2 linked regions of the Homo sapiens genome follow. The protein of the gene in region 2 interacts with the protein of the main gene of each other region in a pairwise test. Each region holds a gene or a part of one and is shown on either strand. Other genes may lie near its edges.

What was found. The genes of interacting proteins can lie anywhere in the genome.
Region 1: the proteins of REL (region 2) and FKBP1B interact in binary tests that used the Homo sapiens proteins (3 or more experiments, as listed by UniProt).

Annotation. Positions count from the first base shown.
Region 1 is NC_000002.12:24,045,338-24,052,768, reverse strand, and holds the start of FKBP1B (peptidyl-prolyl cis-trans isomerase FKBP1B), read right to left. Parts: upstream 3,029-7,431; 5' UTR 2,920-3,028; coding exon 2,883-2,919; intron 1-2,882. UniProt on the Homo sapiens protein: Has the potential to contribute to the immunosuppressive and toxic effects of FK506 and rapamycin. PPIases accelerate the folding of proteins. It catalyzes the cis-trans isomerization of proline imidic peptide bonds in oligopeptides.
Region 2 is NC_000002.12:60,926,417-60,932,148, reverse strand, and holds the end of REL (proto-oncogene c-Rel), read right to left. Parts: 3' UTR 537-5,732; downstream 1-536. UniProt on the Homo sapiens protein: Proto-oncogene that may play a role in differentiation and lymphopoiesis.

The DNA of each region.
Region 1 (7,431 bases), about 37 Mb from region 2:
CCTTGAACTCCTGAGCTCAAGAGATTCTCCCACCTCAACCTCCCAAAGTGCTGAGATTATAGGCATGAGCCACCAAACCCGCCCTGGAGTTTATATTCTAATGGACAGAGACAATACTTAAATATACAAAATGATTATGGATTATGATGAATACTCTAAAGAAAATACACACAATGATGTATTAAAGGGAGATGCAGTGGGACAGGCCATTTCAGACAGAGTGGTCCAGGATGGCCTCTTGGAGAAGGTGCCCCCTGGAGCTGGGACTTGAAGGATGAGCAAAATACTGGGAAATAGCACTTGGGAAAGGAGTAACAAGTGCACAGAATCAACACATTTGCAGTGAGCAAGGAGGCTAGGTGCTGGAAAGAAGGGAGGGAGGAGAGAGGTGGGAAGGACATGGATCATGCAGGGCTTGAAGAGCCGGATTTAATACTAAGTGCAATAGGAAACCACTGGAGGGTTTTAAGCCAGAGAATGACATAATCTGAATTAAGATTTTATAACATCACTCTGGCTGCTATGTGTAGGATGGACGGTTAGGCGTCTGTTGCAATAATCCAGACAAGAAATCAATGATAGCTTGATTTAAGGTGGTGGCAGCAGAGAAGAGAGTGAAAGATTGGAGACATATTTTCGAAGCGGAGCTGACAGGTCATGCAATCAGACTGGAAATGGGGTCCAGGATGAGGACAAAGGAGACAACAAGAACGATGCTTGGGTTTTCTGTTTGGGCAACTGGATGAATAGTGCAACTATTTCCTGAGATAGGGAAGACGGGAGGAACAGATTTGTGCGGGTGGCAATCTTGAGATGCCTATTAGACATCTGAGTTTATATTGCAAGTAGGCAGATGAAGAGTCTGCACTGGAGGTATAAATTTGGCTGGAATTTAAAGCTACGGGGCTGGATACAAAGCCTAAGGAAGCCTAACCACAGAGCCGATATTTAGAGGACTCTATGGGATCCTGGAGGAGGGAGCAGCTAACTGACCACAGAAGTCAAGGAAAACATCATAGAGGAGAGAATGGTGAAGCCAGGTCTTGAAAGACAAGTAAGAGTTTGCCAGAGGAAGTGAAAAAACACCATCTGGGAAGAGGGAACAACATGTAACATGTTCAAAGGCCCTCAGTCCAGCAATAGCGGGAACCCTGTCTGTTTCAACTGTGTCACCTTAGGGCCTAGCACACACGTTCAATAAATATTTGCTGAACGAGTGGTGTGTTTGACAACTTGCAGGCAGCTTGGGAAAGCTGGAGGAAAAAGTTAGTGGTGGGCTTAGGACAGGTGGTGAGAGATGAAGCTCTAGTGTGGAAGATGAGAATAGACCATAGCACCAAAGGCCCCTCCTGGGGGAGAGGGAAGAATCATTAAAACATCTTCTGCCTGAGGGAGGGGCATAGTCAAACATGCATTTTTTTTCTTTTTTTTTTTTGAGATAGAGTCTTGCTCTGTCACCCAGGCTGGAGTGCAATGGCACAATCTCAGCTCACTGCAACCTCTGGCTCCCAGGGTCAAGTGATTCTCCTGCCCCAGCCTCCCGAGTAGCTGGGATTACAGGTGCGTACCACCATGCCCAGCTAATTTTTGTATTTTTAGTAGAGACGGGGTTTCAACATGTTGGTCAGGCTGGTCTCGAACTCCTGACCTTGTGATCCGCCCGCCTCAGCCTCCCAAAGTGCTGGGATTACAGGCGTGAGCCACTGCATTTTAAGAAGAGTCTTCAGGCTATGATATAGAAAGGGAGTGAATATGAGATTGGGGACGAGATTGAAAGCAGGGAGGAGAGACTGAAGATGGGGAGATTAGCTCAGGGGCTGCTGAGGGATGAAAAGGCCTCAGGGAGATGCTTTCTGGGACCCAGCAGCAATGTTTCCTGCGTGGGCAAAGAAGCCTGTACTCCAGGGGATATCTGAAGTAGTGGCTGGGATTGGACAAGGAAGATGGCCTGGAGCCAAGAAGTTATCCAATTTCCTGGGGAGGGGAGCTGTTCATATTAATAATATCTGATATGAAGTTTGCCCATCAAACCCTGCAGACAATGGGGGCTTTGGTATTAATTAAATTTCAAGAAATAAAGAAATGGCTATTCCTTGCACACCCAGACCCAGTAATACAAGGACTTGGGAAAGTGAGACACGGAAGGGGGATAAAGAGGATCACTTAGGAGAGAAGGTGGGAAGCGAGAGTTCTGTTTTGGACTTGCTGACCAGGGAGCACCCTGGGACGTCCAGGGAGAGGTTCGGCCGTAGGTCGCAGGGCTGGGCTTAGAAGCTTCAATGTGGAGGCCATGGGAGTGGACAGGGTGGCCAGGGAGTCTGAAAGCGGCGGCAGGATAAAGCGAGATCCGGAAGCGGGCAAGGGAGCGCTTCCCCCTTCCCCAGCCTGGGTCTGTCCCCACAGCCGCTCACAGCCCGGCCCGCAGGGAAGCGACCGAGGGGAGGCCCGGCGGGGGACGCGCTAGGAGGAGGTCCCCGAGCAGCGGGTATCCGAGAGCAGGTCCTGCTTTCCAGAGCTCGCCGAGTAGGGCAGGGAAAGCGAAGCCGAAACCCAGGCTGGGGTATCAGCAGCAGCGGATAACCGAACGACTGCAGCCGCGACAGGAGAAGCCCGGGGCGGTGGCGGGCCGCAGACCCCCGCCTCCGGGCCGCAGACCCCCGCCTCCGAGCTGCCGCCTACATTCCCCTAGGTGAGCGCGGAAGAGGATGGCGGAGGATGGTCTCCTAGACCCCCAAGAATCCCGTCCGGCGTCTCCGCCTGCCTTCCCCATCCAGCCCCCCGACCCTTCAGCACCCTCCACGCCACCTCCGAATCAGACCCCCGCCCTCCGGGCTCCGCCCCGGGACCCCTCCCCTCCCCTGGCTCCGGAGGGAGCCCGGTACCGTCTCCGGGGGAGATGGTCTCGATCTCCACGCCCATAGCGGTCCCACAGGCCCCGCCTCTGGGGGGTCCCTGCTGCTGCCCGACCCCGGCTCGGCTCCGGCCCCAGCCCCGCCGTCGCTCCGGCTCGCCTCCTCGCCGCCACTGCAGAGCCGGAGGAGGTGCGGCTGGAGTCGGGACCTGCGCGGGGAGGGGCCACTGGCAAGGGGGCGGCGGGGCGGAGCCGCGCGGAAAGGTGGGGTCGGCCGGGGCGGGGCCCGGGGGAAGGGACCCCGCCCGGCTGTTAGCGAGCCTGGCCCCGCCTGACGACATTAACCCACTGACCAGGGAGCGTGGTAAGCACAACCACATCCTCCATCCATCCATTCATTCGCGCATCCGTCCAATAGACATTTATTTAGCATCTAATCTGTAGTAAGCTCTGGGAAGTCAACCCAGTCCTACAGACTTGTGGGGGGTGGGGGGCAGAAGGGGCAAAGGCCGGCGATTAAACCATCATTTTATTTTTATTTTTATTTTAGACAGAGGATCTTGCTCTGTCGCCCAGGCTGGAGTCCAGTGGCGCGATCATAGCTCACAGCAACCTCGAACTCTTAGGCTCAAGCGATCCTTCTTCCTCAGCCTCCACCCAAGTAGCTGGGACTAGAGGCGCGAGCAACCACGCCCAGCTAATCTTTTATTTTTTATTTTTATTTTTTGTAGAAACGGGGTCTCGCTGTGTTGCTATCTAATGAAACCATCACTTTAATTAGATGCGCTCAGTGCCGTGCAGTTCAGAGCGTTGCGGAAGCACAGAAGAGGTTCCTACCCTCGCTAGGCGTCCTGGATCTGTAGGAGCAGAGCTGGGGGAGGGAGGGAGGACACCAGTAATTGCTGACTCTCCCCCATACCCCTAAACCCCTGTTCTCCATCTCGTGTAGTTCTGCTCGACGCACATTTATTGGGTACTCAATTTTCAAGGCAAAGAAATGCGCCCTGGGGATACCAATAGAATTAAGACAGGTTGGCTGTCTTCCAGGTACTAAGTCTGAGAGGGACGGGGACACACAGTTACTGCATGGAGTGATTAGTGCTGTGGAATGAATGAATGAATATGTAAATGAATTCTACTTTGAGTTCCTCCTCCACCAAAAAATACATTCAGGAATCTAGAAAAATATTTTTTGGAGGAGGTAATATTTGTTTAAAGGGTAATTGGGACTTTTAAAATTTTTTCCCCCTCATTATTACCTGCATTGTTCCAAAAATTGATGTGAGGCCAAGTATATCAATTTTTGGAACAATGGCTCACACCTGTAATCTCAACACTGTAGGAGACCGAGGCAGGAGGATTGCTTGAGCCTAGAAGTTCAAGACCAGCCTGGGTAACATAGCGAGATCCCGTCTCTCTCTCTCTCCTTTTTTTTTTTTTTTTTTTTGAGACAGAATCTTCACTCTGTCGCCAGGATGGAGTGCAGTGGCACAATCTCGGCTCACTGCAACCTCCGCCTCCCAGGTTCAAGCGATTCTCGTGCCTCAGTCTCCCAAGTAGCTGGGATTACAGGCGTGAGACACCAGCGTTCGGCTAATTTTTAAATTTTTAGTAGAGACAGGGTTTCACCATGTTGGCCAGGCTGGTCTCGAACTCCCGACCTCAGGTTATCCGCCCGCCTCAGCCTCCCAAAGTGCTGGGATTACAGGCATGCCATCTTTATTTTTAAAAAAAGAAAAGAAAAGAAAAAGAAAAACATAAAAACTGATGTGAAGATATGATTCTCCTGAGTGGCACTGGAAGATAGGCATGGGGAGAAAAGCCTGGCAAACTGGTCCAGAATGAGCCCCAAGGGTGTTCTTCCTCCATTTCCTCATCCCCACTCTCCCGGATGCTTAGGTCCCAGATGAGGTTGTCTGCATCCCTGAAGGTGTTCTGGCTGTGTTGTTAAAGAAAGATGATTGTCGACTGTACTGTGAGGGTCAGGACCTGGAATTCCTCATAGGTCTGAAGAAGCCTAAGGGACGCACTAAATCCATAGGCTGCGGCCAGAGCAGGCACGCTTAGGGTCGGGGTAGAACAGGGATTTGTAGCTGGGACAGGCCCATGCAGCGGCTTCAGCTCAATGCACAGTATTTTGTGTACAGATAAGAACATTTTCCTGAGAGATTTTATCAGATTTTAAAGAAGGTTAAAAAGCCGTGGTGATCCTAGGGCTCCTGGACTCCTTAGACAAGAGAACCGACGAGAAGTGGGGAAAGAGCTCAAGTGCTTAAGGGAGGGAAAATGTGGCGGGCTTGCGGTCGGTGGTTTTACGGGGACTACCACTCCCAGCGATCCGTGCGGCAGAGCCAGAGCTTATTGGCCAGTGGGACGAACCCTCTGCTAATGTGCATATTCAAAAGCCAATAGACGGGGCCATCTCGGAGCGTGCCTATCCTATCAGAGGACCACCCACCTATCAGAGGACCGATATCACCGCCCACCTATCAGAGGACTGAGGGCCGGTGCTTCCGGTGGCTGCCCAGAACTTCTTATGTGCGGCGGCGTGATGTTGGGCGGCCACAGAGAGATTGGTGTTTTTGTGAGGCAGTGAGACCTAAGGTATTTCATCTCCACTGCTGCCGGGCCTGGCGGGTGTGGGGAGGCTGTAGGGGGTCAGGAGGGAAGTGGATCGGCTCTTGGTGGGTAGGGGGCGGGAAGGAGGAGATTCAGGCGTGCAGAGAGGATGAGGAGAATGGGGCGGGCCGCGTGTGAGGGGTCGCGGGATGAGGATCGAGCTAGGGGTGGGTGTAAATGAGGGATTATGACCGTGACTCGTGAATAACACTCCTGGGAATATGTCCCAAGGAAGTCATCCAAAGTCAGGAAATGCTTTAAGCCTTAAGACCTCGGTCCGAGCTTTATTTATAGCGGGTAGCGGGATAAAGTTGGGTACAGCTAGGAGCAGTTCAGTACATTATGTCACTTCACTGAGTGTATGTGAAGTGGCCTCTAAAACTAATTTATTAAACTTTTAAATAACATAGGGAAATGCTAATATATAATGTTAGATGAAAACCGTGATACAAAGTTGCACAGTATAACTGAAAAAGTTTGACAGCCAAACTATGCATAGAAGAGTCTAGAGGGATTAGTCATAATTTTCTTTGGATGAATGTTTTTTCGTTAACTCTTCTTAATTTTTTTCTTGTGTATGATTTTTGTTTCCAAATAAGTGTAAAGAACTTGAAATCATTTTATAGTGGAAATACAATAAACTTGGAAAACAAGTTGGGGGAGGGATGTACTTTTGTTTAAACCTGCTGGAAATGCCAGTTCACCTGAATCCCTTGATTCTCGTCATGAGTTGTCTTTAAAGAAGATGAAAAACAGAATTAAATGGTTATATACTGAGCACCGGCTCTTAGTTTTCTGACCACCTCTCCGGAGACCTGAACTAATACAGTGGTCTTTTCCCTCCTAAAACACCCAGGGTTCTTGATTTCATGTTCTCCAAAAAACTTATACTCTGGAGATTGTGAAACAATAGGTATACAATTAGTTTCAGGCAAAATCAGTAGCGTTGGGGAATGCCTGAAGAGCATTTAAACCTTGGTCCTCCTGGCCCTCTGATCTTATACAGTGAGGTTCTCCACTACCTTGACTTTAATGATTAACCCTATGTCAGTGATTTCCAAATCCTTACCTCTGACTGCCTAAGGTACATTGGTACCATGTAGACATCTTACATGAAGCACATGTTAATTTCAATTTGTCACATACTACACACGTTCCTCCCCTACTGCCCCCACCCCCACCTCCCCAACAGGGTCTCACTCTGTCACCCAGGCTGGAATGCAGTGGTGTGATCATAGCTTACTGTAACCTTGAACTCCTGAGCTCAAATCCTCTCAGCCTCCATAGTAACTAGGACTGCAGGTGTGGGACGCTGCACCCAGCTAATTTTTATTTTTATTTTTATTATTTTTTATTTTCCTTTTTTATGGAACGCTTCACAAATTTGCAAGTCATCCCTGTGCAGGGGCCATGCTACGCTCTGTATCATTTCAGTCTTAGTATATGTGCTGCCAAAGTGAGCACCCACCTCATTTTTAAAAATTTTTCTGTAGAATTGGGGTCTCCCTGTGTTGCCTAGGCTGGTCTTGAAATACTGGCATCAAGTGATCCTCCCACCTCAGCCTCCCAAAGTGCTGGGATTACAGGTGTTAGCCACTGTGCCTGCCCTTCCTTTCCTTTCTTCCTTCCCTCCCCCTCCCCCTTCCTTCCTTCCTTCCTTCCTTCCTCTCTCTCTCTCTTTTTTTTTTTTTTTTTTTTGAGATGGAGTCTTGCTCTGTCACCCAGGCTGGAGTGCAGTGGCGCAAACTCGGCTCACTGCAACCTCCGCCAGCCGGGTTCAAGCGATTCTCCTGCTGCAGCCTCCCAAGTAGCTGGAACTACAGGCACACACCACCACGCCCAGCTAATATTGTATTTTTAGTAGAGACAGGGTTTCACCATGTTGGCCAGGGTGGTGTCGAACTCCTGACCTCAGATGATCCACCTGCCTCAGCCTCCCAAAGTGCTGGGATTACAGGCAT
Region 2 (5,732 bases):
GGTGGCATGCGCCTGTAGTCCCAGCTACTTGGGAGGCTGAGGCGGGAGGATCTCTTGAGCCCAGGAGGCAGAAGTTGCAGTGAGATGTGATTGTGCCACTGCACTCCAGCCTTGATGACAGAGTGAGACTCTGTCTCAAAAAAGAGAAGAGACACCCTAGATCTCCATCCTTCTCTCTCTCTACCATGTGAGGATGATGGGAAGGCAGCCCTCTGCAAGCCAGGAGGAGAGCCTCAGCAGAAACCGTCCTAGTACCCCTGATCTCGGACTTTCAGCCTCCAGGACTCTGAAAACAGATTTTTGTTGGTTAAGCCAGAAAAGGAAAAAGGAAAAAAATCTTGTAAAAAGGCACTTCAGTACTCTACAAAATTATTTCAAAGGACAGTTACAAATGCAACCATATTCAGCAACAGCATTCCATAAAAATGTCTAATGTTTCTAAGCAACTAAAACTACCTTTTCCTGTTAGGAAGATGCTATAAATATGAAGAAAATCTGATATTTTAAAAGTTAAATAGCAACAAAATTTCAGCAAGTGTTTTAGAATTTTTCCATTTATTATCAAGAAAAAAATCACTATATACAAAGATATTGCAAATGTAATAAAATATTCTGTATAATAAACAGCATTTTGGCATTTTAAAAACAACTGTATCTTGATACTAAACTTAACATTAAATAATTGAACAGTACCTGAGAACTTTAAAAAAATCACTTTCATCAGTGCCTCCAAATTCATTTCAGTCATTAAGCATCTACAAATACTCAGTCAAAAAAAATAGGATTTTGGTATTCTGCTGGGATCTACATTCATCACAGCCAAAGGTATTTTAAGTACATACTTTTAAAACAGAAATCACTTCTAAAGGGTTCACCTGGTCAAAAACCATACATTTAAGAACGCTGGTTACCCAAAAGCTTTGTGTTTTCCTTGCCACATCATCTTAAAGCTACTTGAACTGTGAGACAGTGACCAACATTATTAGCTAATTACCCAGTAAAAATTGAGTGTATCACCAATGAAGTCTCATTAAATTCAGTTCCACAAATGGATCCTCAAATATTCCAACCTTATCTATATTTTATTACATCTTATGGAAAACTATGTTTGATTAGATAATAAAGTTTAAGAGGAAAAATGGGCAAGATGAATGTTTGATACTTTTACCAAAAATTTATATTTCATTTACTTGCTGATTTCCCTGAAAACTCAATTTGTTGAAGAAGCAACATGCTGTACTAATTACTGTGTATTACTATTCACACACAAGTGTTTAATGAATTTTACTTGTAATTCTTTAAATTTTTGAAAGTCCAATAGTAAACTAAAGTTGTGGAAACAACTGATAAGAATATTAGAGGATAATAAATTCTACATCTTTAAATAGGTAAGTACTAGCTGGTGGTATTTTCCTAAAGCCACAGACATTTAGAATAAATAGAGTGATTACTTTTGAAAACTTTGATCTGTATTTTGTTTATTAATAGGGCATGAGTGGTTTTGTCTGTGCTTTTTGCATGCATGAAAAACATTACAGACATGATTACTTTCAAGATTCAATCCTACCCACTGTTAACTTTGTGCTTAACTAAACTCTGCTAAGATGTATTAGTTAAAATATTAATTTGACTACGTCTTAGGCAAAAAAAAGGCATAAAACTAGATACAGACAACCCATACATTTATCTCTGATTAGTCACCTATTTCTGGGCTTATAATAAATGATAAGCCAAAAGAAGGCTCTCCAAAGCTGGGCAATAACTAGTTAATGCTAATGAGAAGTCCATCTCAGGTTTCTTACTAAAGAACCTAATCCATAATGATTTTTCTCACTCTGCTGTGTATTAGATAACTAGAAGGAGTATCTAAATTAAAGATTAATCCGGGACATAGGATATACAGATATTGGTTTATTAACAATATTTGATTCGCACTATATAATTTACAGTGTTTCTTCTTATGTACCATTTTATTTAGTACAACACAACCTGTTAGGTAGCAGGCTGGGTATTACCTGAGTAAAAAGTCCCTATTCTTTCCATTTCTCCATGCTATTTAAAAGCATGTGGTGATCCTTCAATAAATTAAAGATATAACAAATTATTTGATGCCATTAGGCGGCCTGGATCACCAATTCTAAGTCTTTTTTTTTTTTGAGACAGGGTCTTGCCCAGGCTGGAGTGCAGTGGCGTAATCACTGCTCACTACAGACTCAACCTCCTGGGTTCAAGGGATCCTCCCACCTCAGCCTCCCTAATAGCTGGGACCACAGGCACATGTCACCATGCCTGGCTTTCTTTTTCTTATTTATTTATTTATTTATTTTTTATTATACTTTAAGCTTTAGGGTACATGTGCACATTGTGCAGGTTACTTACATATGTATACATGTGCCATGCTGGTGCACTGCACCCACTAACTCGTCATCTAGCATTAGGTATATCTCCCAATGCTATCCCTCCCCCCTCCCCCCACCCCACAACAGTCCCCAGTGTGATATTCCCCTTCCTGTGTCCATGTGTTCTCATTGTTCAATTCCCACCTATGAGTGAGAATATGTGGTGTTTGGTTTCTTGTTCTTGCGATAGTTTACTGAGAATGATGTTTTCCAATTTCATCCATGTCCCTACAAAGGACATGAATTCATCATTTTTTATGGCTGCATAGTATTCCATGGTGTATATGTGCCACATTTTCTTAATCCAGTCTATCATTGTTGGACATTTGGGTTGGTTCCAAGTCTTTGCTATTGTGAATAATGCCGCAATAAACATACGTGTGCATGTGTCTTTATAGCAGCATGATTTATAGTCCTTTGGGTATATACCCAGTAATGGGATGGCTGGGTCAAACGGTATTTCCAGTTCTACATCCCTGAGGAATCGCCACACTGACTTCCACAATGGTTGAACTAGTTTACAGTCCCACCAACAGTGTAAAAGTGTTCCTATTTCTCCACATCCTCTCCAGCACCTGTTGTCTCCTGACTTTTTAATGATTGCCATTCTAACTGGTGTGAGATGGTATCTCATTGTGGTTTTGATTTGCATTTCTCTGATGGCCAGTCATGATGAGCATTTTTTCATGTGTTTTTTGGCTGCATAAATGTCTTCTTTTGAGAAGTGTCTGTTCATGTCCTTCGCCCACTTTTTGATGGGGTTGTTTTTTTCTTGTAAATTTGTTTGAGTTCATTGTAGATTCTGGATATTAGCCCTTTGTCAGATAAGTAGGTTGCGAAAATTTTCTCCCATTTTGTAGGTTGCCTGTTCACTCTGATGGTAGTTTCTTTTGCTGTGCAGCAGCTCTTTAGTTTAATTAGATCCCATTTGTCAATTTTGGCTTTTGTTGCCATTGCTTTTGGTGTTTTAGACATGAAGTCCTTGCCCATGCCTATGTCCTGAATGGTAATGCCTAGGTTTTCTTCTAGGGTTTTTATGGTTTTAGGTCTAACGTTTAAGTCTTTAATCCATCTTGAATTGATTTTTGTATAAGGTGTAAGGAAGGGATCCAGTTTCAGCTTTCTACATATGGCTAGCCAGTTTTCCCAGCACCATTTATTAAATAGGGAATCCTTTCCCCATTGCTTGTTTTTCTCAGGTTTGTCAAAGATCAGATAGTTGTAGATATGCGGCGTTATTTCTGAGGGCTCTGTTCTGTTCCAGTGATCTATATCTCTGTTTTGGTACCAGTACCATGCTGTTTTGGTTACTGTAGCCTTGTAGTATAGTTTGAAGTCAGGTAGTGTGATGCCTCCAGCTTTGTTCTTTTGGCTTAGGATTGACTTGGCGATATGGGCTCTTTTTTGGTTCCATATGAACTTTAAAGTAGTTTTTTCCAATTCTGTGAAGAAAGGCATTGGTAGCTTGATGGGGATGGCACTGAATCTGTAAATTACCTTGGGCAGTATGGCCATTTTCACGATATTGATTCTTCCTACCCATGAGCATGGAATGTTCTTCCATTTGGTTGTATCCTCTTTTTTTTTTTTTTTTTGCAGAGACAGGTTTTCCTTATATTACCCAGGCTAGTCTTGAACTCCTGGGCTCAAGCAATCCCCCTACCTCGGCCTCCCAAAGTGCTGGGATTACAGGCGTGATCCATCCACCATGCCAGTGCCCTGCTCCATGTCTCTCTTAACATGGAAACCATCATGAGTTTTCCTGAAGTATTAGGTTAGACGTTGACAACCCAGCTGTTTCTGTTCACTATGGTTGTGAGAAGCCCAGTTATTTAAAAGGCCATTAAGATTGAAAATAGATTTAGAGGTGTAGGTACAGACTGGGAAGGGGCATGAAGGAAATTTCAGGGGTGCTGGAAATGTCCTAAACATGGTGGTGACATGGGTGTTAACATACATAAAAATTAATTAAGCTGTACATTTAAAATTAGTCCCCTTTATGCATTTTACTCTACATGTGTTATCCTTGCAAAGAAAAAGACTGACATCTTTGAGAGCAAGAGTTTTTGTCTTATTCACCTCTGTATAATTTCCAACATCGTGCTTTGCACATTGGACATTCAAAAAATGTTATACAAGATTGACTGCATCAATACTGGAGTGTTGTGTGAGGGTTAGGTGCTGAGGCTGAGAAGTGTATGAGGGAGACCTGAGATTAAACCTGCCACATAAAGTGGAGAGAAGTAGCAAGGTCAGGGCTATGAAATAATCCCAAAAACTTTAGAATTTCTACATAATACAGTTGACACTACTATTCTCAATAGAGCTGCTTTCAGTCTCAAAGGGCTGTGGTATGTGTGCGTGTGTGTGTGGTAAAAAAGGGAAGCAGCAGGTCAAGGAAGAGAAGTGTTATTTCACAAGACTTAAGTAATCTTGTCATTGCTGCTTTTCCTGCCAGAAAATCATTACCTTTCCCTTTAAAAATCATTTCCATATACATTTTACTAACTCCCATGTCAATTTCACCCTTCCTTTTCTAATAATAGCTACTATTTATTCAGCACCAACTAGTATACTAGGGACTATGCTGGGTGCTGGAGTCCCAATGACGAAAGAGACAAACACTTAAATAAGAGGATGTCCGTAATACAGGCATGTACAAAGCTTCACCTCAAGTAAGGAGGCAGGACCAACCTTCATACAGAAGCCCAGCCTTCAAGGATGAGTGTTCTAGTTCCAGAAGAGCAGAGGCAGAGTGGGTAACATGCTAAAGGTATGGAGGCCTGAGAGAATTGTTTTTTTTCAAGGAATGCTAGCTATGTAATAAGGAATAGGGAGAACATGGTATTTTAACTGGAACATATGGAAAAGATTATTACTAGGGAAAAAAGAATGAAGGCCTTTACTAAGAAGGCAGCAGGAATTAAGAAGGGACATATTCAAGAGGAGACAAGCTCAAAAGGACTTGATGATTAAGTATGAGTGTGATGGAGAAAAAGAATACAATACTTTGAGGTTCCTAGTAAGTATCTTGGGTGGCGTGGTAAATGGTAATGCCATTATGGAAGGTAAAGAAGAGAGCGAGCCAGTTTATCAGGACATTCAGGTAGCATGAAAGAAAACTGAACCTGTGGGCTCTGATAAGATCATCGGAGGGCGGGTAGGGGGAAATAGCACCAACTGAGGGGAGGGGTCAAGACTCATGGGAAATAAATCTCAGGGAGGAATCTTGACTACCACAGAAAACCCAGAGGAGTATGCAAAGAGGGAAGTATAGGAGGTTATACATAGGTCAAGCAGTGTGAGGACTGAAAAAAAGACACTAGATTTGAC